Regions from separate parts of the Homo sapiens genome. Here all the other regions are linked to region 3. A link means that fine-mapping ties the variant in region 3 to the expression of a gene that starts in the linked region. Tissue or cell type: cerebellum. Region 3 holds a variant in brackets; each other region holds the start of a gene. All regions are shown on one strand. Distances are between the middles of the regions.

Region 1 (8,106 bases), 71 kb after region 3:
AAAAAAGATTTTAATTAAAAACCAATTTCTGAACTTCCAAGTTTAAAAAGAAAAAAGCTAAGCCCACCAACACATTTTTACCAAGATTCTGGTGCTCTACCAGCAAGACAAGGCAAACCACCCTCGAGTGTAATTTATAGCTGGGTCACCCTGGGTTACTCTGATCAGAAGTACCCTCAGAGCAGCTGTGCGTCTAAAGCGCACCCGGCAAACAAGCTAGGAGGACTTCGCGGACACTGGTCCTATCTAATTATTACTGTATGATTGTTTAACTTCAACAACCAAAGATTTTGGTAATAAGCCTTTCAAGAAGGTTTTTAGGTGTTGAGAAATACCATTTTGTAATCAAGAAGATCCCGTGGGAAGCTGCTTTGCTCAAATCAGACATTCCAAGGGGGCAGAAGACTGGAAGAATGTGCATTCCAATTCCATGCTTCTTAATATTCCAGTTAGCTTCCTCCCAAAAAAACATACCGAGGTAAGATTATTTCAGCTCCCCATTTGTCAATTTATTTTTTCCACTTTCCCTGAGACCTGTAAGAAAGGTTCCTGCGGCATTTGCTCTAAACCTGATGAAGACATGCTTCACTGCGTCCTCTCTTCCCATCCAACTTTACGGGAAACTACCCCCAACTCCAACATTTTGCCAGGAAATACTGTGCTTCCCTTGAGTACCTGTTATGTTTTTTCATGGTTTACGAGGCACAGAGTTGTTTCACTTTTCATTTTGGTTCCCAAGATGCATTCAAGGGCCTGGTTCAACCTGTAGAATACCTGTAGGGCCCATTATTTTATGAGTGTTTCCATCCTCCACCGAACCATCCCTACCAGTGTCTGCATTTTCCCTGGCCCTTTTACTCTCTGATAGTTTTTGTAAACTCTAAGTTATTGATCATTTGGTGTCATTTTTTTCTTTGTTATTAAAGAAACTTTGTTCATATTCCAGGCTGAAAGACTGGAATTCTTAGGCTTTTTTTTTTTAAGGCTGTTTTCACACATCTTCTTGCCTATTAAAAAAAGTAAGCTTGTGTGTTCTGCCATGTATTATCATCTTACCAATCAAATGTCTTAAAGATTTTTCTCTGAAATTTTACTGATTAAAGTATTTAAAATCAGAGACTTCCTCAATTCATTGATGAAATGCTTTTACAGCTAGAATATTATATAACAAGACCAAAAGGTATTAATACAAACCAAATACTTAAAGAGGCAGGGACATACAAATCTTAGAAATATAATACTAAAAACTAATTTTCTGTTACTAAGAGCTAATAGCTACAATACAGTCACTGAGTTGAGTATAAGCCAGACACATCTCCACAACATGGTGTCTGGGGGTGGCAACTATTGTTTTCCCCCATTCTACAGAACAGAAGCTAGGAGAGAGATGTCAAGTAGCTAGCCCAGCATCACAGAAGGCAGGAAGTGGCAGAACGGGGACTAGAACTCACATATGCTAGACTCCCAGGTCCACTCCACACTGTCTCCCCAGGATGTTTCTATACTTCTTTGTTAAATGAGATGTGGGGGTAGATGGGGGGAATCTAGCATTCAAGCAATGTATCAATTATGCAATAAAGAAAAAGCAGGAAGGAATCAAAAGGTGTCAAACCACGCAATGTCACTTTTGTATATACCCACCTTTCACCCGGGAGTCCTGAGGCCTCAGTCAAAATGCAGCATCTCATACAAAGGCCTAGCAAACATGGCTATTTGATTCCCAGGCCCAGAACAGATCAGAAACAGTATGACATAAATAATCACAATGTCAAGAAGTGACAGGTGGGTAGCAAAAATGGGAGGAAGGGCTGGGCGCCATGGCTCACGCCTGTAATCCCAGCATTTTGGAAGGCCAAGGCAGGGGGAATCACCTGAGGTCAGGAGTTGGAGACCAGCCTGGCCAACATGGCAAAACCCTGTCTCTACTAAATAATACAAACATTAGCCGGGCATGGTGGCAGGCACCTGTAATCCCAGCTACTCGGGGCGCTGAGGCAGGAGAATCACTTGAACCTGGGAGGCGAAGGTTGCAGTGAGCTGAGATCGCGCCACTGCACTCCAGCCTGGGCGACAGAGCAAGACTCCGTCTCAAAAAAGAAAGAAAAAAAAATGGGGGGAAGGCGACAGACAGCAGAGTTTGTGTAGAACATCCCTAAGTACTTCACTCAACTAAGACATCGCTTTTAGAGTTAAAATTCTTAGAATAGTCCAACTTCTGTGACCTTGAGCAAATCTTTCTGAGCTTCAGTGTACTGATCTGTAAATGATGTTGGATAATCCCAGCAATCCTCCTCACCTTACAGGACTGCTCTGCTGTTAAGATCAAAAGACTTCCTATGAAAGAATACTGTCTGAAAGGACTACAAAAATGAAACGGGTTATTAAAAAATGGGTTTGGTGCTTAAAGGGATAAATCCACAGCTTTCATAACTAACTTTCCAAAGGTTCTAAAAACTGAGGTTTTACCGTTTTTAAATATTTACAATAATTACAGTGATCTAGCCTGTGTATGCATTTCCTTGGATCTGCTCAGTATTAAGCAGGAAAAGGGCAAAAGCTGCTACATTAGTCAGCAAAAAAGAAATTAGCATGGATATTATTAACATCCAAGAAAAGTAAGTCACTTGAAGGGCTGCCAACGTTATCAGTACCTCATTTACAATGCAAAAGGTAGTAGAGACTCAACTGCTGCCAGCCAAGAATCACTGGGGGGAATTACAATGAATGTGCACAACCAGGCCAAAGTATCACATCACATCCAACATTTTGGACATGCCCATTCCTCTGAAGTTTCCTAAAGTTCGGTTTGTAAATCCTGGAAGGAAGGAAACAGTAACTTGTTACAAACTTTTCAGTTGGTGAGGTTTGCACTCAATCATACACAAACCATTCACCTTTCTGCTCTCTAAAAAAATTGTTAGCAAACTGTTGTCTAATACGGGCAACACGTTTGAAAAGGTAAAGGACCTAAACATTTCAACTTTAGATACATAGACTAAAATCAACTCCTTGCTTCAAAGACAGTATGATGTGCAGACTAACAGCGGGAGACAAGAGCCACAACTCTCCCTTGGGGTTTGACAACGGTGCGCTTCATTACCTCTTTACATAATTCGCTTCACACCGCCTACCCCCGCAGCCCCGGGATGTTCCAGCTCTGACAATGCCAGTGCCTTCCACCAGCGGTCGGACGGTGCGGTGGCAATCCTGACATGCTTGGGCTCCCGGGAGGTTAATGGGAATTAAACCACAGGCAGCCCTCCTTTGTGGCGCTTTGGCCAGAACAGCAGAAAGGAGACAATGAGCGTTCTGTGCACAGTTCCGCGCCGATTGGCTGGTCTCTCCCCCCAGAAACCCCTGATGTCATGGGCTTGGAATGCAGGGAGGGAGGAAGGAAGGAGAGGATTTGGGGAGGGGGACGCCTCTCATCTCTTTCCCAGGCCAAAAGTCCTAAAGATAAACCTAACGCATTCTTGGGCTCAGTGGCAAAGCTGAGCGTCACCAAATCCCAATCGCTCCAAACTATAAGCCGCCTCAGCAAACAAGCCCCAAACAAAAGCAACCCACAAAAATAATCCTTTATGTCGTGAAAGTCTAATGTACTTCAAACTTCTCAGTGTTTCATAAAAAGTCTCAAGCCTAAGCAGATATCACTCGCACAGTGGCGCGCTCAGGCTTTGTCTCCATTTCCCGCAAAAGCAACAGCAGAAGCAGCAGCAGCAATCTGCCTCCAAATGCCTCCCAGGCACCGAGATCGGAGACTGTGATGGGTCCCGGACCGGCTTCCGTTCCTCGGGGCCCCTGGGGTCGGCGGGACATTAGGCGGTCTCTCTCCCCGTGGGGAGGCGCGGAGTCCGCCAGCACCCGGGGCCCGGGCAGATGGCGGGGGCTGCGGCAGCGGCTCGCCGGGTCCCTGGCCGCGCAGACGGGCTCCGCCTAAGGGCGAGTGGCCACGCAGGAGCGCCCCCTTCCCGGAGGGCGCGTTCTGCAGTCACCAAACGGCCCCCGAGACCCCCGCAGCCGGAAAGGCTGGCGCCGCGGGACTCCAGGCGCCCGGGAACCCACCGCCAGCCACTAGTCCTGTCCCACGGCGCGGGAACAAAGCCAGGCGGGTGCCCGGGAGCCGGCCCCGCAAGCCCGGGGACTGGACGCGACCGGGACAGGCAGAGACGCTCGCGCCGCCTCGACGGCCCCTCTCCAGGAAAACGGTGAGCCACAGCGCGAAGAGCAAACGAAGCACGGCCCAGCGCCAGGCCAGCCCAAGGGTGCCCCGGGGGCCCCCGCGCCCGCCCGAGCCAGGCGTACCTTGTTCTTGACTTCGGCCGAGAGCCCATAGGAAGGGCCCTTGTTGAAGTGGGTCATGGTGGTTCGGGCGGCGGGAAGAGACAGCGCTGGGGTCCGGGGTCTCTCGCACTTCGCTTCCCCGCTCCTGGCCCCGAGGAGTGGCCGCCGCGGGGGATGCTCGAACTCCCTCCTCTGGGAGGCGCAGGAGACGGCCGCGGGGCGCGGGCGGTGCCTGGGCGACTGGGTCCAACTGGGTGCTACAGAGCCTCGAGCTCCGCTGCGAAGCACCCGGCTGCCTCGCTCGCCGCCCGCACCTCGGTTCCCCACAGGCCGCCCCCGCCTCCGCCTGGGCCTTCGAGGATTGGCCGCCGGGCCCGACCAATGGAGGGCCGCCTCCTCCCGCCTCTGCGCCGAGGGGCGGTGCGGCCAATTGAAGGGCCGCGGGGGCCGCTTTCCCTCCCGCTCCCTCCCCGCGAGGTCCCCGGCCCCCGCCCCAGCCCTCACGCCACCGGGGCCGGCGGCTAGGCGGCCCCGCCCCCGGGCTAGGCAGGGCGCCTGGGGGCTTCCCAGCCACAGGCCATTCACGTCAACCTCCAGGCATCCTCCGCGGCGGGCCGGACCGGGCCGGCGGAGGGGAGCGGAAGCCCACCGGGGCTGGCCCGCCGCTGACCCGCCGCCTCCGTCTGCCTCCTCCCGGGCTCTGGGCCCAGCGCGCCCAGATGCCGGGCAGGACCCCTCCGCCCGCTGCTGGAACACCAATAGCAGCGTTGGAGCCTCTGGGCCGGAGGAACTGGGGCCTCCACCGACACCTGCTTCTTCCCTCACCTCGCAGCCTTCCACACCTGTTGATCTGACCTCTGCCCCGCTGCCGCCCAGGAGTAACCTAAGGCTTTTGGCCTGATTCGAGCTCACTCCGTCTAAACCTCTAAATGCGGTGCGAAAAAATCCTGGGGAATGTGCCATGCAAAGCCTGGGCATTTCAAGTGCTTTTCTGGATTCGCATCAACTCCTCTTTACAGGCATCTTTATCCGGAATTCAGCTCGTCCCAAACCCCACGTGGTGTAGCTCTGCTTGTGTTTTTGAATCCCGGGGCCTCTTTGAATCAGAAGCCCTTTGTATAGAGATAAGTATCCTTTAGGCCAGAATCAGCCTCCATTTTTTTCGCAGTCCCATTTCCTACCCGTAATACTTTCTTCTGATTTTAAAGCCATTTGATAGAGAAGGGACAGGGAACAGAACCTTCGCCCCCCGCCTGAGCAGCTGGTAGACTAGATATCTTCCAAACATTATCTCATTTACTTCCCTGGAGTTACAAATAGGTAGATTTCATGTCCGTTGAGGGGTGAGAAAGCTGAAACTTTGAGACTTAAGAATCCTGGCCGAGGTCAGCCTCCTCCGAAGCTTCATCTCTTGCCACCACTTTCTGGTGCACACCTAGGACAGATTTCAATCCCTGAGATCCCAGGATGAAACCTATGTTTGCCAAATACCAGCTACTGTGCCAGAAGAGATCATGGAACCAGGTGTGGAAAGCTGCTTGAGAAGAGGAGCCAAAACATCATAGTTGAACCGTCCTGGAATAGAAGTGAGTAAGGTGAACCAGGTGTGGTGGCTCATGCCTGTAATCCTAGCACTTTGGGAGACCGAGGTGGGAGGATTGCTTGAGGCCTGGAGTTCAGGAACATCCTGGGCAACATAGCAAGATCCTGTCTCTACAAAAAATCCAAAGTTTTTTTAAATTAAAAAAAAAAAGTGAGTAAGGCAGCTTGAACCGGAAATGCACAAAACTGCTATCCAGTTTGCAAGGCTTTTCCCAATGACTTTGAGGGATGGAACCTGAAGGAAGCGGGAGGAGGCAAATAGGGAGGAAAGTGAAATGATTTATAAATGACTTGCTAATTTTGTCCAAAGGGAGTAATGATAATTAGGGCATTCTTCCCACACGAAGATGACACAATTGACCCAATATCATTGAGGCTAACAGTTTGGGCTGTTTTTCCAGTAGTATGACAGTGACGGTGTGTCAACCGCAGGACCTCACCCACATTTCTTTGGGACCTAGGAGTGTGGGAAATAGCAGCCAGATTTGAGGTACAAATCATGGTGTCCAGCCTGCAAAGCCTTTTTGCAGCAATCTAAGCCTGACTGCTCCTGTTGTATGCTCAAAGTCATTTTAATCTACTTTAGCTTATTGTAAAATGTTCAAGAATTGTATTTTGTCTTGAAAACCATGAATTTTATTGTTTAGGGGGAGTTATTTTTTAAGGAGTGCAGGATTTCAGTTTTGGATGATGAAAAAGTTTTGAAGATGGGTAGTGACAGTGGTCACACAACATTGTAAATGTACTTAATGCCATTGTACACTTACGTGACTTTAAAGTAAACATGAAATTTTCTACATTTGTTTGTTTGATCAACTGTTATCCTCCCTAAGGTACTTGAAGTTCTTTCTGACATTGCCACTGGAACTTACTATTTAAATATTGTTGGTCCTCTTGGATTCCATCAGTACTCCAGAGACTTCCTTCGTTTCTAATTTAACTCATTGTGTAAGAATACGTAATGCTGTTGTTAGCACTAGGGAATGTATCTGAGTCTCATGCACCAAAGTGTGTTAGCAGCAGCAAATCTGTATGGGTCTGCAGCAACCTCAATTCTTGCCTCCTCCAAAGAAAGAATTCTACCGAGAGGCATAAGGCAGAGGGAGAGGCCAAGGCACGTTTTAGAGCAGGAGTGAAAGTTAGAGCAAGAATGAAACGAAGTAATGTACACTTGGAAGAGGGCCAGGCGGGCAACTTGAGAGATTCAAGTGCGCTGCTTGACCTTTGACTTGGGGTTTTATACATTGGCATGCTTCCAGGGGGTTGTGTCCCTTTTCCCCTGATTCTTCCCTTGAGGTGGGCTGTCTGCATGTGCAGTGGCCTGCCAGCACTTGGGAGGGACCACATGCTCAGTGTGTTAACTGAGGTTGTACGCATGCTCACTTGAGGCATTCTTCGCTTACTAGTCAAGTGTTCCTAGAAGAAGGTCATATATGAGTACCAGTTAAATGCCACCATTTTGCCTCTTAGTTCACACCTGTGAGCCCACTCAGCCAACTCCTAAGATCCTATCCAGAAGCTGCTGATCACCAGTTGTAGGTATTTTCTAGCCATTGGGAGACTGCCTTTCCCTGGTGCCGGCTGTGACCAGTTATTATTTTAGAGAGACAGTTTAACAACTGCCTGACCACCTGATGGTTGCGTGACATTCCTGGTGGGAGCGGGGAGCCCTCTCCTGCTCTGCTTGTGTCTGACTACCTACTGTGGCACTATAGAATCAAATGAGAAAAACTTAAAATTTGGGACAATTTTAACAGCTTTATTGAAGTATATTGATATAACAAAGTATATTTAAAGTGTTCAGTTTGATACACACATATACACATAGATACACCTATTTAAAAACCCATCACCACAACAGACAAAGGACATATTCATCATACCCAAAAGTTTCCTCATGTAGCCCCTCCCTCCCAGTCTTCCTTACCTCTCCACCCCACCAGGCAACCCCTGATATGCTTTATGTAACTATACATTAATTTGTATTTCCTAGAATTTTATATAATTGGAATCACACATTGTATATTCTGTTTTATCTGGCTTCTTTCACTCAGCAAAATTATTACGAGATTCACTGACGTTGTAGCATGTATCATTAGTTCATTCCTTTTATTACTGAGTAGTATTCAACTGTAGGGATACACCAGTGATTTTACCCATTCCCTTATTGATGAACATTTTGGTTGTTTCTAGATTTTGGCTATTGCAAATAAAGCTGCT
Region 2 (8,106 bases), 35 kb before region 3:
CATAATTGGTTGAAAGGTACAGGTCCCACCCATATCTGAAGAAGGGAACTACATAAGGGTGTAAACACCAGGAGGTGGAAATCATAGGGGCCTTAAAATCTGTCCACCACACATACTGTTATTCATTACTTCTAATTTTATTGCACTGTGAAATTTATTGAGCCTCCCTTTAAGATCTAATACACAGTTTATGTTTTTACTTTAATGTTTCACATGTACCTGAAAAGAGAAAGGACATGTATTCACTGTTTGATGGAAACGTATATGAGTTATAAATATCTAATGGCTCAAGTTTATTAATTAAATTGTACAGACCTTGTATATTTGCTTTCTGTGTGTATGTGTGTTGGGAGAGGAGAGGAAGTATCTACTGTCTACTTGATCTATTGGATACTGAGAGGAGCCAGTTAAAAATCTCCAACTATAATTCTGATTTATCTGTTTCTGCCTAAATTTCTGTTAGCTGCTGCTTAATAAATATTAAAGCTGTATTGTTGGGCACATTTATGACCTCCCTTATGAACTTTCTATCTTAAGTTTTATTTTGTCAGGTTTTAAAATTACTACATGAGCTTTCTTTGGTTCACATTTGCACTATATCCTTTTCAAGCCTTTTAACCTTTTAGTGTCTGTTTTACACAAGTTTCTTGTAGAAAACATATTGCTGAATCCCTTGCTTTCATTCAATTTGAAAGACTGTTTTTCTTAATTGGTTAGTTTAAGCCACTTACATTTATTGTAATTGCTGCTCTATTTAGGAGGCAGCATAGAATAGCTCTAAGTATGGTTCTAAGTATGGGTTCTAGATCCAGACCACCTGGGTTCAGGCCTTGGTTCTGCCACTTTCTAGCAAGTTAGTTAATCTCAGTTTCATCATCTATAAAATGAGGATGATGAAAGTAATAGTACCTTCCTCATAAGGTTATTATGAGGATCAAATAAGAAACACCCAGAAAAGTATCTGGAACATATTAGGTACACTGAAAGTAAAAATTATTATTAGTAATTTTATTTCTGCTATCAAATTTCATATATTCTAATTATTGCACTTTCTTTTTATTCCTTTTTCCTCTGCTCTCTTGCCTTTCATTTGATAAAATTTTCTTCCACTGCTTTAAAAGTTACATGTTTTATTCTTTTTTAACGGTAGTTACCCTTAAGACCTACATTCACAAATATTTATCCCTATTGATTTATTAAAGTTAACAATTTTTTTCGTCTTCCTCCCATATGATAGTAATTTAACCCAGTACTACTCTAAGTACTCTAAGTAGTACTGGGTTACTTATCTCATCCATTCCAGAATGAGATTTGAGCCCACATGTAAATCAACACACAGCTTCCTTCATTGAGAAAGTCTTGCTACGAAAGTGTCAGCTGAATCAAAGAGTTTGCTTATGACATAGCTGATATGCATTCTGGTACAAGCTCCTTATCTCTTAGAGAACAATTAAGTTTTGTGAACCACCCTTTGAATGGCACTATTTTAGATCACTGTCCTATCATTTTGGCCTCTCATTCCTGAGTCCCACACCCCTCACAATATTGATATTGTCTATAATTTTAGGTCTGAATCATTATAAATACACTGTTCTTTGTTTTTAGACTTTTGAAAAGAGTTTTTGTAAGTCAGGTTTAATGAAATACAGTTTACATACAATAAAATTCACCTTTTCTAGTGTACAGTTCTACAAATTTTGACAAACAGATACCACTGGGTCATCAGTACCATTCTCAAGATAATGGAATATTTCCATCACTTCAGAAAGTTTCTCCAGATTCCCTTCACCCCCAGCACCTGACAACCATTGATCTATTTTCTGCCTTTTCCAGAATGTCACATAAATGGAATCATAGAGTAGCTTATTATATCTGACTTTTTTTCACTTAACATGCATTTGAGATCATCCATGTTTTTGCATATGTAAGAAGTCTGTTCCTTCTTAATGCTTAGTTGTATTTCATCGTATAGATGCATCACAGTTATGTATAGCCACCCACCAGTTCCTGGACACTTGGGTGGTTCCTGGTCTTTTTTCTAACACAACAATAAATTCAGCCTAAATATTTGGCCACTCTCATGCTATATCTATTGTATCATCTCCTGAATTTGTTTCTCTTCTTGCTTGATTATGTCCTCCAAGAATGTCATTCAAATGAATCTTTCATAAGAATATTTTTATTATTAATACATTCTCACATTCTAATGACAATATGGCTTAATAGAAAATAAGTTCAAAGTTATGCTTTTAAATACTTACATATAGAAACATTTTGCTTGAGATAAACCTTTTCAATCTGAAGGTTTTTTTCTACCTTGAAATTTATCTCCATTATATCTTCAAATATTTCCCCTTCTCTGTTTTTATATTTCTTCCTTTCTGTTCTAGTTTTACCCTAGATATAAGCTAGAAAATTTACAAATAAGCTAACTTGTTTTTTAAAACATTTTCTACTGCCTCTGGAGGTTTGCTGAAAGTGCTCTTCCAATTACTAATTCATCGTCAGCTGCATCTTTTAGACTATTGCACATTACTAATACGTAGCATCAATATTCATTCTAATTATTATTTTTATGCTTAATATGTTTTAGTTTCATATTTTTTCCTGATTCATATTGCTAATATCATAACTCATTTTAAATAAATTTATCATGCTTATTTAAAAATCTTGGTCCATCTGCTCTACTGATCAGTTTCAGATGGCATATGTTATTCAGTTGTGGTCTTTTAACAGTAGTTGCACTCCTCCAGTGTCTAATTCTTTGTCCTATGAATTCATGTTCCCCTGGGGTTTCACCTACTCTGTCTGATAAACATGCATCCAGGAAGGCCCAGTGAGTTTGCAGTGGGAGGGTGGTGTGAGCCCAGAAGGAAATCGCTGGCACCAGAGAACCACTGTCTATCATTCCCAGTTTCTCCCACTTACCCAGATCTTTCCTCCAGTCAGGTTTCTACCCTTAGGGAGAAGCAGCACCTAAAGGAAGCAATTAACCTAGCAACCCTAAGGGTGGCAGGGGGAAGGGTAGAGGCTTGATTGAGAGGAGGTGGGGGGAGGTCGGCCTGCAGTTTTTTTTGTTTTTCGTTTTTTAAATTCCTCACCCCAACAGTGCTTTTGCGCTGGTCTGACACTACCTGGAAAACTATGCCACCAGTCGCTTCAGTGGACACTACCATTTCAATTGCGAAGTCAGGCAATGATTGTCCTAAGGCAAGGTGGGAGAGAAGTCAGAGTAAACCACCTCGAGAGCGCCGGTCTCCCGGAGTGTCTGGGTTCGACTCCTGCCTCCACAACTTACTGGGTCTCCTCGAACAAGTTGCATCACCAATGGCCGTGCCTCAGTTTCCCTCCTCCGTAGATTAGGAATAACAATAGCAGTGAGAACAGAATCCAGCACACAGTAAATGCTGCTTACCTGTTTGCTATGTGGAATACGCCACTACACTGTTGCTCGGCCCTCAGGAAGGGTCTGCTGAGACTTTCTACTTCCTGCTCAGGGCAGAGGCCGACCACCCGCCCAAGGTCGTGGCGGCGCCGGCTCAGCTTTAGTCGTCAAAGTGCACATCCTGGGAGCCGCTGCCTCGAGGTGGTTGAGGCGAGAGGGCAGGGAAGCGTCTGAGCCTCTTCCTCCCACCAGAGCAGGACCCCAGCTGACAGCGGGTGAGCTGGGCAGAAACCCATGCCGGGAAGAGGCGGACCCAGTGGACCGCAGCGCCCGCAGTCGCCGGGCCAGGCGCAGAGGCGAACGGGAGGCGGCGCTGCACCGTGCCCGCCCCTCCCCGGCCCGGCCCCGGCTCCAGCCCCAGCCCCAGCCCCAGCCCCGGCCCCGGCCCCGGCTCGCGGGCGCTGCGTCTCCGCGTACAGGAGGCGGCGGCGGCTCCCAGTCACCGGCCCCCGCCGGCGAGCGCACGATGCACTGCCTGGGCGCCGAGTACCTGGTAAGCGCTCGCAGCCTCGGCCCTCGGGGGAGGAGCCCCGGGGAAGGGTCGAGTCCCCCGCCTTCACGCACCTTCCCTGCCGGACGCTTCCGCCTTTCCCGCGCCTCGGGGATCCCGCCCCCGCTTAGTACCTTGGGGCCACCTGGCGGGGAGGAACCTGGACCCTGCTCCAGTGCTGGGGCGGAGGCGGGGGAGACGCGGGCCGCGGGGCGCAAACTTGGGGTCGTCCTCAGGTGCACCTCCAGGTAAGCACTTGGCGGCAGGGGGCTTAACATCCGCTCCGCGCAGAGCAGGTGTTTCAAAGGCTGTGTGAAAGAGCTTCAGGTGGCCACGTAAAAAAATAATATTAATTTTAAAAATTTAGAAAAAGATTGGTTACTTTGGCCCCTCTTCGAGTAGATTTGGGTTCGGTTTCCAGGTTGAGTCCACCTGTTTATCTTCTTTTTCTCAACTCTCCCTTTTTCTGGAAGGTTTCTGCAGAAGGAGCCCCTAGGCAAAGGGAGTGGCGACCCCAGATTTATAGGAAATGCACAGATACGGCATGGTTATTCCTGTTCTTTCTCTTTTGGACTGGTTTGGTAAGTGTGGGTGCTTGGTAGGAAAGAGGCCAGAGTGTGTGTGCACGTCTGGAAATAACTCTGTCCCAAATGTAAATCGTAGTTGGTGCTGCAGTGAGAGACTTCTGCCGTTAACCCACAATAAACATCAGTTTGTACTCGGGAGAATTCTTGTCCTAGACTCGCTAGAAAGGCTGTCTTTTTGCTACAGGCCATGTTCTAAGGGGTGACTCCATTAGGAAATGGGAATTAACAGTTTGCAATGTGATTGCTATTTAGTAAGGCCAATGTGTCTCCTTTTACTCTCCGAACTTACTGAACAGAAGTTCTTTTAGCACCTGCCACACCCCCAAATCAAATATTCCTCAAGCTTTTGGTGCACCTTTAACAAAGGAAAAGCCAGGGTAAGCCTAGAAATAAACTGCATTTCCTTTAGCTGAACATCACACACACACGCGCGCGAGAGATATGTTGTGTTTAGCAGCCAACACTGTTAACCATAGCTAACAAGGAATGATTTTTCCCACTCTAATTTCGAGGTATGTATGATTGCTGGTAAACTCCATCAGGCTATGCGGTTATAATCCTGAGAGAGTCTGTTGGAAGCCGAATCTTGCTGCTTTTATACTTATTTTAGAATTGTAGGTAACAGCAGAAAACGTCTCACCCGACATTTTCAAAGGCCACTTTCACGAAATCATCCATGCCAGGATAAGGCATGCTATTTGCTGCATGGTAAATGATTAATTTATAGAGCAGGGTAATAACTACCAGATAGTAATTACCTTTGTTGAAAAGAATTCCATCTGAATAGGCCCTAAAATATCATGTTTGTTCTTTCCAAGTAAGAAAGGCATTTGTTCACTTATGACCCGTTTCACATAGACAGGCTTGGTTACAGGCACAGTGGAAGGTTAGGTCTGAAACACATAATCAGATGTTTTTTGTTGCTTACGTTGGAACTCTCCCCTAGGAGCTGGGAGAGACAGTGCACCTACAATACCTTCTGCTTAACTTCGCAGATGGTTGGTGTTTTTATCTGAGACTGCTGTTGTATAAATGCAGGGAGCAGCTGGCCTGCCTTGTGCCTGGCAGCTTTGACCTCAAGCTGTTATTGTGATTTAATGATCTGCCGTAGCCCCTCCACAGCTTCAACCTAGGACCTCACTACCAAACTCTCAGCCCAACAGCTGAGAATCCTGGGGAAAATCTTTGTAGATGACCTATCACAGCCTGAAGAATTGTGAACCAGCTGAGAGGTGGCACGGAGCTGGAAACTGCTTTAAAATTACATTTCATTTGCAAAATAAGTCTGAAGTTTTAATATATCCAAGTTCTCACTATGGCATTCTGTTTTAAGAGTCAGAGTCCTTTCTTAGCTCACTGGCTTTTAGTGTCTTTTGCAACATTTTTTATTTGCAGGTATTTAAAACAGAGCAAGGAGTGTTTTGTTTTTGGACTTTTTTTTCTGCCTCTGTTGTTCAGCTTTCAGGTCTTGTGACAGATGTCCTGACTGGTGATGGTGTGCCCTGAGTTAGGGCTGGACAAAGGCTTGGGGGAAGGAGCTGAAATTATAAGCAGAGATGGTTCTTGCAAATGCAGCACCAGCCTGTGTTTATATTTGCATTAAACATAAGGAACAAAGTCTCAAAGTCTGGACTATCTCTGCCTCTACTTACCCCTCCAGTATCCTCTCCTGCCCTGCCTTTTCCTATCATCCCTCAAGATTCCATTTTCCTGATTTTGCAGGCACGGTTGACAGTGACTACCTTGGTGGCCAATGTACTAGACCAATGTACACACCTCCTATATCACCTGTCATATAGAATCGCAATTGCATGTTTGAAATTAGGACAATGAAGGTTTATAGTAGTAGTTTCTTGGAAGGCCGAGGCAGGAAGATCCCTTGAAGCCAGGAGTTCAAGACCAGCCTGGGCAATAAAGCAAGACCCTGTGTCTACAAAACATAAAAAATAATAATCATAAAGTCATAGTTTTATTAGGAGGGACTCAGGAATCCTCAGAAACCACTCCCACCTCTCCCACCCAGAAAAACTTTCCATTCTTCACCACAGGCTTTCCAAAGGAAAGAATGATGGTAAATGGAAAACATCACTTTGTTATTAGATTACTGGTGAGCTGGGCAGAAGCACATGACCCCTTTCCTCCCTCTAAATCCAAACACAGTCCAGACCTTACTACACTCCAACTCGAAAGGACGAGACAAGCATGTCAAGGCACAGTCAGCTTGCCATGCCAGCCACATTGGCAAACAGAGTCACACCTACTCCACAGCCTTTAGGTAAAGGGTGAGTGACACACACTACTAGCAAAGGTGACCCATTCATTCTAGAATCTGACCAGTTAGACTTAGGAGGATCTTGGAGAGTGGGAAAGGACAGGGAGCCTCCTTCCCCAGGAGGTCTGCAGCCCGTAAGTCCTGCTTGCCTTCTAGGCTGGGTTCCTGGAGGCAAGGAGTAGGTTCTGGTCATTCCTGTGTCTCCCAGTAAGAAAGTCTCAAGAACACACTGGGCACTTGAAGAATGTTTGTTATTTTGATTTCTAAATTAGTAATAAATGCAGAATGTCTAGAAGGTATTTGAATTTAGGACAATGTACCTTTGCAGCATAAGGTATCAATACTATATATTAATGAATAGTGTATTATATCTGTTCTCCTGGAATGAACTTGTCAATATAGAGTATTAAATGGTATCCTATATATTGCATACAGTACTGGGAAACTTACTAAGTTTGCATTATGGGAAGATACATATTCAATCTTGGCAGAGAGCCTGTCAGTATGTATTAATGGCACAGTTGTTTGAACTGAAATTTCAAATATTCCACATTCACTATGAGAGTGGATAAAAATGATGATAGATTGCAAGATGTTCTTGTCCAACAGAATTCCTGTGGTCCTTTATTTTGTATGTCTTAAGCAGTTACTCCAAAACACTATTTGCAGATTGGTGAACAGTGTTTCAGTACATATCAACTGTGTTGCTTCTGCAGAATCCCTTAAAAGTAAGAAAAGAAAAACAAAAAAAGTAGTAGAAAAAAAAAAAACCTTGGGGAAAGAATTAGCATAGCCCTGAAGCAGTTAAATTAAGCAAGAACATCAAGGGAAGAAAAATTGAATTGTCCCAGTAAAGTTAGACCAAAAAGAAAAATGATAGACTCTTAAGGAAAAGGTTAAAAAGCACAGAGGTAAGAAAATGGAGAGAAATCTGTTTCAGTGGATTAGATTCTCTCTCTACCTAAATGTATAAGTAGCAGAGGAGCAGGATGCTGATAGATGGGAGTTGCTGACACTGTTACTGACGGAGCAAAGCGCTATGATGCTGGAGAGCTTCACGTTCCACCAGGCTCCGTTTTATATCAGCATCTGCAGGGGTGTGGGGCACTGTGCGCTCAGCCCTTTGGCCAGGCTCTCATATGCCCCCGTTTTTGCCAGGTGTTTATCATGGGCTACTCGGTGGTGGCTGGAGCCGCGGGAAGACTCCTCTTTGGCTATGACAGCTTTGGCAACATGTGTGGCAAGAAGAACTCCCCCGTGGAAGGGGCCCCTCTTTCAGGGCAGGACATGACCCTAAAAAAGTAAGTATCTA
Region 3 (8,106 bases):
AGTGGGAGACACAGGCAGGATGAATGTCAGCAGGCTGGGGCTGGCAGGACTCTTGGGCCAGTTTGCTGGACAAGGCCAAGTGCACAGAATGTGCTGGAAAGTAGAACCCCTCCAAATTAGGCCTGCTTCCCTTGGGGAATTATCCTGACCAGCTGGACTGCCTTCCATAAGGAACTGCCATCTATAACAATCATTATATCACCTTAGTCTTTTGAAATGCTTTAAAGCTTGCTAATAATATCCAGACTTACAGCTAACTGCACTATGAATATCTTTCAGATTATTTTGATGCTCTCAAGGAAGATCTCTAGAAAATTGTCTCCAAATCTCTTTAATAGAATATATTACTTGAGGAAGATATATCCATTCATTCATTCAATCAACAAATATTTATTGAATATTTACTGTGTGTCAGACCCTATTAAAAATGCTGGAGATACAGCTTTTCTTCCAATTTGGAGGGTAGAAGGAGACAGGCTTTAAATAAAGTAAGTCAGTCAATGTTATAGTACTTTAAAAGTTGATAAGTGGCATGGAGAAAAATTAAGCAGAAAGGACAAATAGGAAATGCATGAGGGGGCAGGGTGTCATTTTAAATTTGACGATCAGGGGTGCCTCACTGAGAAGGTGATGATGCAGAAAGATTTGAAGTAGGTGAGTGCAGAGCCATAAGACCATCTAAAGCAAGGGGAAACATCCCAGGCACAGAGGCTGGCAAGAGGCTGGAGTTCTAGGGCACAGCAAGGGAAGCCTATTCAGCGAGAGTGGAGTGGGCGAGGGAGAGCTTGGTTCAGAGGGGAGTCAGGGTGCACACAGTCAGATCCTGGGGCCTTTCTGGCCTTTGTAGGAACTTTGGCTTCTAACCTGAATTGGGAAGAAGTCTTTACAGGATTTTAAGCAGAATAAAATCTTGACCTGACTACATTTTAATAGCAGTGATTCAGTAAGAAGAGGATGGTGGCTTGGAATAGGTCATAATGTTGGAAGTGGCATGACATATTAGATTCTGCATCTATTTTGAAGGTAGAGCAAATTGGATTTTCTGGTTACATGAAAGAAAGAGGAGTTGGAGAAGACTCTGAGGGATTTTGGCCTGAGCAACTGGAAGATAACTTTGCCATAAACTGATATATGGGGCAAGAATTTGAGTATAGCATTTTAGGGGTAGATCAGAAATTAATTTTTAGTTGCTTTAATTGAAATGTCTTTTAGACCACCAGATGGAGATGTCAAGTAGGCAGTTAGCTATCTGAGTCTGAAGTTAGTGGAGGAGGTCCTGGCTGGGATTCACATTTAGGAACTTGGGAACATATTAATAGTATTTAAAACCATGAGATTAGAATGAATGTAGATAGAGAAGGGAAGAAATCCAAGGACTGTGCTTTGAGGCACTTCAGGATGCCCGGGAGATGAGGGAGAACAAACAGAGAAGACTGAAAGGGAGTGACCAGTGGGTCGAAGGAGAAGGGGTGGAGTGTGGGGCCCTGGAATGCAGGTGAAGGGTTTCACAGAGATGTGCGCGGTCCAGTGTGGCAAGTGCTGCCGCTAAAGGAAGAACTGAGGATTGACCACTGAATAATCATGATTGGAGTAGGTGAAGAGAAAGTGGGAGGAAAAGAATTGGAAAGAGTAAGTATAGACAATCTTGAGGAATTTCACTGTTAAAAGGAACAGAAATGGAGAGGAAGCTGGAAGAGGAAAGAGTCCACAGTAGATTTTTCTTAAAGATGGGAGATAGTTGCGAATGATTCAATAGAGAGAAAGATTTTGATGAAGAGGGTGAAAATTATTGAAGAGTTATGTTCACACAGGTTAGAAAGAATGGGATCTGGTGAAGTGTGGCCATAGGATCATGGGCCATTTATTAATATCATGTTCTGGGAGAGGACTCAGATTATGGACCCGTGTTGATAGCAGGTTAGGTGTGAGGTGGTCAGCACTAGCAGAGGTTTTCTGATTGCATCAGTTTTCTCAGTGAAACAGGAGGTAAGATCATGGGCTGAGAGTGAGGATGGGAAGGAAGCTCTTGAAGGTTGAAGGGGGAATTTATAAAACAGTTGGGCAGAAGAAGGGGAAACAAATGGACCAATATGGGAGCATGTAAGTTTCTGATAGTAACTCAGATGGTATCCTCTCTCTGATTTTTTTTTTTTTTGCCTCATTTATTGTTCCGCCTAATAGCTGAGGTCCAGCATAATACCAGCATGGAGTAGATGCTCAATAAATGTTTAAGTTAATTTCAGAATTGGAATTCTATCTACCTATATCTCATTTATAGCTAACCCTGTGTGGCACTCACTGTAGCTGACCCTATTGCACTTACTATTCTAAGAGCCTTACCTGTTTATTATACTTAACTCATAACAGCTATGTGTATTGCACTAAAAGCCACAAGACAGGACGAGATCACCAAGGGTGTGAGAAGTAGGTATTACCATTCTCCGATTTCAAGTGATGAAGCAGATTTCAAAAAAAGTCCCACTATTTGCAGGAGGTTGCTTAGGGGACAGTGCAGAGATGTGACTCTCAGCCTGTGTGACTCTCAAGCCCAAGCCAGTAATCACTGTCCCAAGTTCATCTTGCCTACTCTCTTCTTCACCATCAGAGAGCTGTGGCCCACATTGTTTGTCACACATTTCAAAGCTGAGCCTGGAACCAAGCCTTCTCACAATTCAGTGCTCTTCCCACCACCATCCCCTGAGATCTGTCATATCTTGGGATCTACCCATAGTCTACCTCCCATTAACACCCATTAGCTACCCATGATAGTAGCTGTAGTGCCCAGTCCATAGAGACAAAGCAACTGTCATGTGATGAGGGGATCTTGCCTGCATTCACACAGCCATCCAGGAGAGGGCAGTCATGTGTGCCTAAGCACGTCTACCCCACCCACAGGCTCTGCAACCGCAGACTCCGAGCTAGATCCAACCTGTTTCCCGGCTTTCGCCCTGAAGCCAGAGCGCCCCTGAACGTTTGTCTAAACCAATGGTTCTCAAGCCCCCCGCGCCCCCCGGTGACTTTTTGCCCCTGATATGGCATTTGGCAATGTGTGGACACATTTTTGGGTTGTCGTGGCTGTGGGAGGGGAGGGAGAGCTTCCTGGCATCTGTGTAGAGAGGCGAGGCTTGTTGCTAACACCCTCCAGTGCGCAGGACAGCCCCAGCCCCAGCCCCAGCCCCAGCGAAGATCTGGTCCACAATGTCGGTGAGAAACCCTGCCCTAAAGGAAAGTCCTAAACAGCCCCAGGAACAAATAGAAGATGGCTTTGATAAGGATGTTCAGAAACAATAGTGATCACTCAAAAATAACTTGCAGGTTCTGCTTCTTTGGGGAGTGCCAAATGCCATTCTTTGGGGGAATGCCAAATAATGTCTAAGCGGATCTTGACTCATCACTTCAGCTGCTCCCACCGCTGACTGTGCCAGGTTGGGAGGTGTGCG[T/C]ATATGTGCACTTGACAGCACAGGGCAGCTGAGAGGAGAGTCTGGCCCCCATTAGCGTCCAGGTCCTGTAGGACATACTTACCTTTGTCTGTCTGAAGAAATCATCCTTCCTGTTCTGTGGAAATATTCTCCGCCCGCAAACTATTCGTGATATTGTAAACCTAGTTTTGCAAAAGCATAATCTGTCGCTGATACTGCTGGGCCTTGTAGGAGGAGCAGGTACTTCTTCCCTGGCTCAGAGCACTTCTCATATTCCAGAGTGGTTCTCAGAGTCCACTGACCTCATCTACCTAACAGGCATTCTGTTTGGGAGGGGCCACCTCCTCTGGAATTGGGAATGTTTCCTGAAGCATGCCCTGAATCACCCCATCTTAGAAAACCATAGGCATTTATCCATGCCTTACCCAAAACAGAGATTGCCTCCAAGCCAAAGTGAGCCCAGCATTCATAAAACATTAACCTCTCTATAAATCAAGCTGTTCCACTGTTTCTTACAATGTAATTCTTGTTCAGCAGAACATAGAGCTTGGGAATTAAGATCAGCCTTAGTCAGTGGAATCAGTTTTTGATCTACAGCACGGATATCCTCCCCTTTCCTTCACACAGACCCTACTGTGAATATCTAAGGACTCCTGAATGACGAGCCTAAAGTCAATTTATAGCTATGGCAGGAAATATGAAACAATCTCTAAATGTTCTTCAAGCTATAGGTTTCACCAAAGACCAGAGCATGCATCTTCTTCCCAGTAGTAGTTGTTTTAAAATCCATAGTGGGAAAAGATCTAGAAATCATATGCAGCCACAAAGCTGGGATTTGGATTTACCAGTGAATTTACCAGTGGATTTACCAGCAGAGTAAATTTGGATTTACCAGTGGATTTACCAGCAGAGCTAATTCAAGGACTTCTTTAGAGGAGAGAAAAGAAAGCAGGGTATAGCCACGTGAATGGCAAAAAGTTGTTACGGTGACCTTGCTGGCCTCAGTTGAAAGTAGTACTGTGCTCCTGAAATTTAATGATAGTAATAAACCATTATCACTTATGGCGCGATATGTCTATGGGTTGGGCACTATACCAAGTACTTTCCAAGTACTCTCACTCCGTGCTCAAAATACCACCAGGAAATAGGTATTCTAGATAAGGAATCTAAAACTCCTCCAGGTATTCCAGATAAGGAATCTAAAACTCCAGGAAGCCAAATAACTTGTCCAGGGTTACCCACAAAGGGGTAAAGCTGGGATCTGAACCTGGGAAGGTTAACACTGAGGCCCAGTAGATATTTTAAATGTGCTAAGAGAGTTTGCTCTTGAAATGAAATCTGAAATAGATCCTTTTGAGATAACAAAGACCCTTGTCTCTTTTATAAAGTTTAAATTTTTGGTGAAGTAGGATTCTATAATGTGATACTAAAAGCTTTGTGTGGTTTCATCAACGTGCTGAGTTTGGTTTGCATCACAAAGTCATATGGTAGGAAAACTACGGATTTTTAGAGTCCCATGTGTTTAGGTTTATATTCTCCTTCTACTAATTTTGAGCTCTGAGACTTTACAAAAGTTACTTGCCTCTTCTTCTTCTTCTTTTTTTTTGGAGACTGGAATCTTGCTCTGTCACCCAGGCTGGAGTGCAGTGGCGTGATCTCGGCTCACTCCTACCCTCGCCTCCCAGGTTCAAGAGATTCTCCTGTCTCAGCCTTCCGAATAGCTGGAACTACAGGTGCCTGCGACCATGCTTGGCTAATTTTTGTATTTTTAGTAGAGGTGGACTTTCACCATGTTGATCAGGCTGGTCTTGAACTCCTGACCTCAGGTGATCCGCCCACCTCAGCCTCCAAAAGTGCTGGGATTACAGGCATGAGCCACCACACCCAGCCTACTTGCCTCTTCTAAACCTCAGTTTTCACATCCACAAAGTGGGATGAGTATTATAGCATATGTCAGGTGTCTTGGAAATTGCCTACCAATGGTCACTGTAATTATCACCGTTGGTGTTATTTAGAAGTTAAATGTGTGTTTTTGATTTTGATTTTTGTATATTTTAAATTATGGTGGGTACTTGATTTTGGCATTTGTTTTATGTAATGCCAAAGGCCAAGCATAAAGAAACATGGCTTGTTGAACCATGGTTCATGCTTAGGAAAACATTGGTGTAAAGCATGTTTGTGTTTGAAACTTTAGGAGCTGCCCAGGTTATGGAAGGCGGCCAAGTGGAATATAAGCCCCTTTCGGGCATTCGGTACATGTGGTCGTACCATTTAATTGGCCTCATCTGGACTAGTGAATTCATCCTTGCGTGCCAGCAAATGACTATAGCTGGGGCAGTGGTTACTTGTTATTTCAACAGGTAGGTCCAGTGTTTTTTTTCTATTGGTTTGTCTATGTGGTTTATCTATGTGCTTCATGTTAATATCTCAAAAGATATTTGGGAATGTTGACCTAGCCCCTTAAAAGAAGTTGGCAAGAATAAAAGAGTAAGCTAAAATTTGGGCTGTATTCTCATTTGGTGGTGAGAAGAAATATTACACCCTAAATCTGTCACATTTCCAACCTTTTTACTTTAAGCTAGAAAATTTAGAAAGAAGACAAACAGAAAAGAGATCATATTGCTTAGACTTGAAAGATAAAAAGGGGCTGCTCTGCCTATGGAGTAGCCTTTTTTTTTTTTTTTTTTTTTTGAGATGGAGTCTTGCTCTGTCATCCAGGCTGGAGTGCAGTGGCGCGATCTTGGCTCACTGCAAGCTCCGCCTCCTGGGTTCGAGCGATTCTTCTGCCTCAGCCTCCCAAGTAGCTGGGACTAAAGGCATGCGCCATCACACTCGGCTGATTTTTGTATTTTTAGTAGAGACAGGGTTTCACCATGTTGGCCAGGATGGTCTTGATCTCTTGACCTCGTGATATGCCTGCCTCGGCCTCCCAAAGTGCTGGGATTACAGGTGTGAGCCACCGCACCTGGCTGCCATTCTTTTAATATTAAAAAAAGGAAGGGTGGAACTCCCCTATGAATATCCATCCTAATTGACTTCAGACAAAAAAATTACTGGTCTATTTTGAATATACTTCAGTAAATTCTGTGAGCCTCAGTTTGTCCTCTGCAAAATCAGATAACATTTGCTTGGGGAAAAAAATTAATCCTAAAGGAATTGTATGTAATTACAAAATATAATTTATATTATAGTTAAGAACCAGTGAATTAGTTACACACTTCTCTGCTTATATCCCTATCACATCATGAAAGCAATTGAGGACACACACAAACACACACACCCCTGAACGCTTTACCTCTTCTGTGTGTGTGACTCACCCCAGGGCAGTGAGAGCCCTCAGGACAGAGGAACCCAGCCAGGGCAATGGCAGGACTGGGCTCAGAAAGAGAAGTTTACTCTTCATAGGGCTGATCCTCCTCCAGCCTCTCAGACCAAATGAGAGAGAAACATGAGCTTCATTGGGAGAGACTATCTGCCAGGGGTGATTCCTGCCATTGAGCAGTTTCCTCCTGATGATAAGGAGCACTGTCGGGTGTTTGTTTGTTTGTTTGTTTGTTTGTTTGTTTATTGAGACGGAGTCTTGCTCTGTCGCCCAGGCTGGAGTGTAGCGGCACGATCTTGGCTCACTGCAACCTCTGCTTCCTGGGTTCAAGTGATTCTCCTGCCTCAGTCTCCCGAGTAGCTGGGACTACAGGCGCCCACCACCACGCCTGGCTAATTTTTGTATTTTTAGCAGAGCTGGGGTTTCACCATGTTGGCCAGGATGGTCTCGATCTCTTGACCTTGTGATCCACCCGCCTAGTCCTCCCAAAGTGCTGGGAATTACAGGATGAGCCACGACACCCGGCCACCACTGTGGGTTTTTAATGTAGTGGTGCAGTTCCGGAGCCTCCATCATTAGAGACTCCAGAGGACTCACAGAGGGGCTGTTGCCCTTGGCATTGAGAACCTCCAAGCAGCCGGGGGTGGGTTGTGTGTATTGCTTCCTCCCAGGTAGGGGAGCAAAGAGAGTATTCTAACCAAATTTGCCAGCAGGTAATATTTGCCTGACAGTAATTTTGTGTTATCTTAGAATAACAAAATCAAAGCATTTTCAATGAGGACTTCTAATTTGGACTTCCAGTGAAGCATATGCATTTATCTCCTAATCTCTTCCCTTTCTCCAGCCACTCAAAAAATCATGAAAGATTGAAACAGGCACAAACACACCAGGACAGTAAGAAACAGAGAGGCAATGACAGCAGATAAGAAACACCAACCAAATGGTGAGAGCCAAAGAGAGGGAGGTGGAGCAGTGCCCTAAGCCCGCTGGAGAAAGCAGAAGCAGCCTGTCCGTGTGTGTTGGCTGCATGAGGAGGACAAATAAGATGCAGCCTGAAGTGAGCCACAGAATCCCAGAGAGGCTCAGGAATTCAAGTATAAAAAGTATTTCCAAAGATTAGCTGAAAGCCTTCCTCAGGAGTAGTTAGACCCCCAAATTCCACACCAGCTGAAGACAGGAAAATTTGTTCTCCAGAGAGGGAAAGCAGAGAGGGCCTGGACTTGGGGTATCAGGTACAGCTGAGGCTGGGGGCAAGTCTCTGTACTGAAAGCAGGGGGAGTAAGTGAAAGCCTAAACACTGAAATGAGGTCCCCCACATACACCAGCACCCCACATTCCACAGTTCAGCTCCCAGAATGTTGGCAG

Which allele goes with the higher level. Alleles are on the strand shown, and positions count from the first base shown. SD is a standard deviation of normalised expression in the study named. Not every link is listed here.
For the expression in cerebellum of the gene that starts at base 4,578 in region 1, C is the high allele of the variant in region 3 and T is the other (moderate effect, 0.44 SD a copy in GTEx).

The links. PIP is the estimated chance that this variant, and not a neighbour inherited with it, causes the effect.
Region 1: CNN3 starts here. The variant in region 3 is fine-mapped to the expression of CNN3 in cerebellum (GTEx, PIP above 0.99). The same link has a PIP of 0.9 or more in cerebellar hemisphere.
Region 2: it holds the start of SLC44A3, and the variant in region 3 is fine-mapped to the expression of SLC44A3 in cerebellum (GTEx, PIP above 0.99). The same link has a PIP of 0.9 or more in cerebellar hemisphere.

What each region holds. Positions count from the first base shown.
Region 1 is chr1:94,922,533-94,930,638 of GRCh38, forward strand. CNN3 (calponin 3) reads right to left here and starts at 4,578. Exons shown (of 7, transcript NM_001839.5): 1 at 4,306-4,578. The coding sequence starts at 4,362. It overlaps CNN3-DT (CNN3 divergent transcript), which reads left to right and starts at 3,828. Exons shown (of 3, transcript NR_168377.1): 1 at 3,828-4,208. RefSeq lists silencers at 3,686-4,115, 4,216-5,095.
Region 2 is chr1:94,816,541-94,824,646 of GRCh38, forward strand. It overlaps SLC44A3 (solute carrier family 44 member 3), which reads left to right and starts at 3,817. Exons shown (of 15, transcript NM_001114106.3): 1 at 3,817-3,938; 2 at 4,409-4,516; 3 at 7,953-8,095. The coding sequence starts at 3,912. It overlaps SLC44A3-AS1 (SLC44A3 antisense RNA 1), which reads right to left and starts at 3,692. Exons shown (of 6, transcript NR_160780.1): 1 at 3,416-3,692. RefSeq lists a silencer at 3,821-4,010.
Region 3 is chr1:94,851,722-94,859,827 of GRCh38, forward strand. SLC44A3 (solute carrier family 44 member 3) reads left to right here. Exons shown (of 15, transcript NM_001114106.3): 10 at 5,614-5,779. Among named protein-coding and RNA genes, the nearest start is that of SLC44A3, 35 kb to the left of the region's middle. The variant T/C (reference allele first, on the strand shown) is at 3,441.